2 separate regions of the Homo sapiens genome follow, and region 2 is linked to region 1. The links come from fine-mapping of genetic effects on gene expression. A gene starts in region 1. The other region holds a variant in brackets. All regions are shown on one strand. Distances are from middle to middle.

Evidence for each region.
Region 2: its variant is fine-mapped to the expression of KBTBD2 in whole blood (INTERVAL, PIP above 0.99).

Annotation. Positions count from the first base shown.
Region 1 is chr7:32,890,215-32,893,127 of GRCh38, forward strand. It overlaps KBTBD2 (kelch repeat and BTB domain containing 2), which reads right to left and starts at 1,546. Exons shown (of 4, transcript NM_015483.3): 1 at 1,322-1,546. RefSeq lists a silencer at 906-1,855 and enhancers at 1,627-2,330, 2,036-2,095.
Region 2 is chr7:32,867,125-32,870,037 of GRCh38, forward strand. KBTBD2 (kelch repeat and BTB domain containing 2) reads right to left here. Exons shown (of 4, transcript NM_015483.3): 4 at 1,048-2,913. The coding sequence ends at 2,221. Among named protein-coding and RNA genes, the nearest start is that of KBTBD2, 23 kb to the right of the region's middle. The variant C/G (reference allele first, on the strand shown) is at 1,399.

The DNA of each region.
Region 1 (2,913 bases):
GATTCCAGGCCCCAACCTAAAAGGGCTTCAATAAGCACTAAGCCAACAGAAGATCAAAGTGAAGAAGTAAGCTTAACATTAGTTATCAGCCAGATGGAAAGAATAGCAAAATTCCACATCATCGAGATTAGAAAACAACCGACTGGCTTTTCAATTTACTTTAGATCAGAAAAAAAAGTCGGGGAAAAAAGTCCTTATCAAAGGTTAACCAAACTAAGTCATTCACAATTACAAGAGATCTAAGACCCATACTACTCAAATTCGGCAAAAATGTACAACTCAGAGGGAAGAGGGGGAAGATCCCTGTTAATTAGTTGCCTCGATAAAAGAAAATATCATTTTGGTCAGTGCACAGCGTTGATAGGGTTTCGTTTCTCAATGCCTAAATGCTGTGAGCCCGACGTACAGATTCAAGTATAAACAACACGTGACCAGTCCTGTTGCCTACGTCTTCATAAGGCTAATTGACACAGAAGATAGTTCACACACACACCCTTTTAAAGTTCATTTTGTATTTTGAATTCTTTTCCTATTTTCACTGGAAGGGGTCACCGTGGTAGCCCGTGGGATGGACGCTCCTCTACCTTTTGAGGCAGGTAGAGTTCTTAGATAGCTAAGCCCAAGGGAAAAAAAGATGTTAACTCAAAATAACCGCCCCACACCAAACTAAGCGATTTTTCTATTCCCCGGTTGTTCAATCCGTAGGGAGAAGGAGGTGGTCGAATTCAAGGAAGTTAAAGATTTCACAAAGTAAACACGTACACAATTTTCCGTTTCAAAGGGCAGTTTCTGCTTTCTTTTTTAAGTCGATATAGACCATAACAGGAGCTCTGTTCGTCTAGACCTCTCTTGGTTAGTTCAGATGTACGCGGGGGGAATACAGAAGGAAGGGGGTGTCCTCCTTCGGCCCACCATGTCGCGAACACGTCGCGAGTCTTTAAGGGAAACAGCTTTACTTCGGTAAGGGCGGGCGCGAGCCGAGGCCAAGGCGCCGCCCGGGAGCCCCGCGGGCGCCGAGGCGCCCGGTGCCGGGGCCGGAAACGCCCAGCTAGCGGCGTACCGGGCCGCCCCTTCCCCGCGGACCTGCCCGGAGCTCCGCCGCCCTGGGGCCGCCGCGGGGTGCGGAGGGCGGCGCCGGCCGCCCGCGCCCCTCCCCCGCCCGCGGCGGAAGCGTCTCGGGTTTGAAAGATGCCGCGGCCGCCGCCTCCCACCCGCCGAGCCACAAAGGGCCGAGCCCCCTCCCGCCACAGCCCTCCTCCCCGGCCCCTCCACAGGTCGCCGCGGGCTCCCAGCCTGCCCGGCGCTACTGTCGCCTGCTCACCCGCGTCCCTCGGTCCGGAGGTGTGGGATCCGCTCCAGCCGGTGGCCCCGTCCACACTGGGCCCCTCCGGCGCGGCGGCGGGGGCGTGGCCCTCCCGCCGCGGCCTCGCCTGGGGTCTCGCCTCCGCCTCCGGCCGAGGAAGGCTGGCGCCGCCGCCTCTTCCTTCCGGTTTCCCCTCGCACCCTCCCTCGCTTGGTCCGTCCAGCGCGGAAAGCAGCGTCCTCTGCGGGCGCCGCCGCACGCTCCTCAGGGCCCGACCACCGCCAGACTCCTCCCCCGGGAGCCGCGCCGCCCGCCCGCCCGCGCCGCCTTGTCAGTCCGGGGCCGCGAGACGCCGGGCCCGCCGCCCCCGCCGCCCCCGCCCCCGCCCCCGCCGCGCGCTCTCGCCCCCGCCCGCGGCCCGGGAACGCGCGCGCAATGGACCGCTGGCCAGCCTGCCGCGCCCGCCCTCGCCACGCCGCCCTCCCGCCTCGCGCGCGCGCGCGCCTGTCGGCACCAGCGGCAGTTTTGCAGTTTCCCGGGTCCTCGCGACCGTCCCCCGCCCCTCCCTTACTCTAGCTGCCCCCGCCCTTTTCCTCTGCCGGATGCCACCGGAAAGCCAAAACAATTGGGGCCGCGCAGGCGCGAAAGAGGAAACGGAAAGAGCAGGAAGGGCGGGGGCGGCGCGAGGTGACGGGAAGCGTAATTGAAGGGGGTTCCCGGGAAAGGTCATGGGAGAGCCCTTGAGGGGCGCGTGCGCGGCAGAGGGGCACTCCGAGTAGCCGCGGCGGCCGAGGCCTTGGGCCTAGACGGGCGGATGGAGAGGCCCGACAAGTTCATTGCTAGGAAATCTAGAGAGCAAAACACCAATTGTTATGCTGAAGGAGGTGTTTTATCCCTTGGAATTTCCCCTGAAATACAGATTTTTGCAGGCTGGCTCGGAAAGTGGGAATGAGTAGGACTAAACAATACCAGACCGGGGGCAGGAGAAAGTTGAGGAGGCGTTGGGCGGGTCGCTTTGTTGCCGCAGCACCTCTTCTCCAAACCATGCCCTCCTCTCTCCAGAGCCGCTTCGGCTTTTCCCAAGGCCAAGGAAGAAGTCAGAGCAGCACCCAAAAGGGCCCGCAGTTGGGGGAGGTTAGGGGAAAAGGGAGAGAGAGACATCTGGGTGCGGACGGCAGCTCCAGCGTCTGAAGCCTTCCGTTGTGTGCTGCAATGCGGCGGCTGCACGCCCCCAACCCCCCGAGTTCCAAAAGAGCGCCTTCAGCGTTGCTTCGCAAAGCGAAGCGTTTGTAGCAGCAGCTAATGGCTGTGGCCCGTACTGTTTTAGTTAACTTGGCACAGCTTGCTGGCAGGCAGGCTGTAAATTTGCTAGGAGCTATTCGTGGATCAAAAAATTGTCAGAAATGCCCACACAGACTCCACCTACCTTCCTAACTTACAGTCTTGGCACAAGCCCAATCTAGAGAATATAGATGACTAATTATAATCTGAAAGGCCATACAGTACATTACTGAAGGGAGCCTCTTCCTGTAAACTAGGCTAGATCAACTGAATGCACACCAAGATGCGTGTTATCAGGAACTACTGATAAAGGATTGTTTTACTGTAGA
Region 2 (2,913 bases), 23 kb before region 1:
CAACTATACAGTGTGCTGTGCTACACTGCAGGGGGATGCAGCCGTAAATAAGACAATCAACACTGATCATTTTGTAGAAAAGCATGAAGACTAATAATATTCATTTATCTTATCTTTTAGAGATGGGGTCTCAGTCTTGTCACCCAGGATGGAGTGCAGTGGCACAGTCAAGGCTCACTCCAGCCTTGACCTTCCAGGGTTAAGTGATTCTCCCACTGCAGCCTCCCTAGTAGCTGGGACTACACACCACCATGACTAGCTAATTTTATTTATTTATTTTTTTGGTAGAGACAGGGTCTCCCTATGTTGCCCAGGCTGGTCTCAAATTCCTGGGCTCAAACATTCCTCCCACTTAGGCCTCCCAAAGTGCTGGGATTACAGGCATAAGCCACCCCACCTGGCCAAAACTAGTAATAGTCAATAGAATGATCAGTACAATTAATAAGATCTAGGTACAAGGTAGTAAAAATGTGAGAAAGGATACTTTTCACCTCATGGTAAGACATGGTTATCAGGAAACATTCTTTAAAAACTGCCTTAAATAGCTCTTGAGACAGCTGCAAGTAAAGTTGGGATGAAGAAACCATTCTGAGTAGCATGAATAGCATAAAAAAGCATAAAGCATAGCGAAAGCCTAATCAGAAGATAAGGCTTATGGAAAAACAATGCAAGGTAGGGCTGTAAAGGTAATTTAAAGCCAAATTAGAGAGAGCCTTAAATGTGGTAAGGAATCTGGACTTCATTCAGTAGGCAGTGGAGGGGCAGTTCAAGTCTATAAACATGATCAATGATGTGCTCTAAAAAGAAACCATTTTGTTTGGGGTGAGGTTCAGGCATCATCTCAAGCTTCTAAAGATGATGATCAGAATCAGATGATTCTAACATGCCAGCAGGGTAGAAAGACACTAGCCTAAGGAAAGCCTATGCATATCTCTCAATCTTCATCAAACAAAATTTGGAAGAAACCACCTATTACTAGCTAAGTTTGACCTAGCAAAATCAAAATTTAAAAAGCAGACCATTCCCATAACAAAAGAAAAATAGATATTGAATATATACAATTTATTTAATAAATTAATGTCATTCAAAATACAGTGCCAGAACATGGTGCAGTTGAACATGCTAGTAATGTTTGTCATGAAGCACCTGTGCTCATGTTAGATTGGCGGCGCCCCACTACTGCTAGTGGTTCCTGGGATTAATGCCAGAGCAGCGCTAGTTATCTGCTCTTCTGCACAGCTAGTGCAGAGAATTCCTGAACAGTTCACCTTACTAATCCTAACCCCCACACGCACACAACAGGTTAAAAAAAACACACCCTGACAGCTAACAGATCTATACACAATCACTCTACAGTAATGCTTGTTATTAAATTAAGATGTAATGACCTGGTTAACC[C/G]ACTCTAAATCTTGAAGATGGAGAACTACATCAGCAGCAGATAGTTATATGCATGAGCCAATGTTAACATAATACAGAAAGTGGAGGCTTTTTCTGATTAAAGCTCCACGCAGACCCGCACAATGAGTGGCTGGCAATTCTTACTGCAAGCCTAGCAACTTAAGTCCACACCTGGTAAATGACCAGCTGACTGGAAGACCTGTATTCTAGATAGACAAGTATAAGTTAGTGAAAAGAGAATACATGCACCTAATAGTATAGTTAGACTGATCCTGCAGTCATAGCTTTCCCTGTGTAATACCATAAAATTATGGAAGATCTTCCTCAACTAGAGTATAGGATTTAGACATTTCTATACCAACACGGACATTAGTGTTAAGTGCAGTTGAATTAATTACACTGAAAACTGTATTCCAGGACTTCAGAACAGAAGCACGGGAATGAAACACACATACTAAAATAACCTCAGCACAATTTGTGATACATCACACTAGGAACAGGAAACTACTTTTATAAATGAACTTTTTGAACTGTACATACACAGGGCTAACAATGTTAGATAATCCAGATTCTTATACTCTCATGATTACACATAAAGTTTCTCAATTATTGAATAATCTATTTCATATTATGGAAGCATATCTTTCTGTAAGACTCACTGATATATATTATACTGATGCAAATATTAAGTAGGGCATAAAAATAAAATTTATCAAAGATAGAATTTTATGTACTCATATTTAGTTCTTTCATAGCCTCTTTTGTTTAGCAAAGAAAATGACAAAGCACATAACTCAGGCGTGCACTCCCTGAACTTCCCCACTATACAGGTGGTAGTGCAACCATTTCTCCATCCAGTTCAAACTCTTCTGTCCCATCCGTTGAAAAAAGATAAGTTGGTGGTTTCCATGGAGACTCTTCAAGGCAGGATGGATAGAGTTTCCCCACAGTGCATCGAAAATCTCTCCCCAAGTCCCACAGTACACGTTCAGATATATGCTGCCGCAGAGACCACCGGTCAAGTTCCAGGTCATATTGGTAGGTGACGTATTTAGCTCGCTCATTTAAGTGGGTTTCTCGCATAAACACACATAGAGAATTTGAGATCACAACAGCTCTAACACAGGGGTCAGAGTACCTCTTAGCAGGGATGTTGGCTGCCATTTTCCACTCATTTTTATTCACATCATAAATTTCCACAGTTACTGAAGACCCATCTACAGTGCCAGAGGGGAGTCTTATGCCGGAATTGGTAGCAATATGCAACCCTCCAATATAGAAAATTTTATCACCAAAAGCTGCAGCTGAAGCAAAGGACCTACTAGTCTGTCTCATGGCCATTTCTACCCATGAGTCAGACCTTGGAAAATAACAGTACATGAGGTTCAGTGTCATCACATAAATGCAGTCATGAACCACAACTGCTGCACTCCATTGCCAAGCACAAGGTAAAGGGCTTACCATCGTCCACTCATCTTTCTCAGTGTCGTATCTTTCTACGGTCCTCCGATTAAG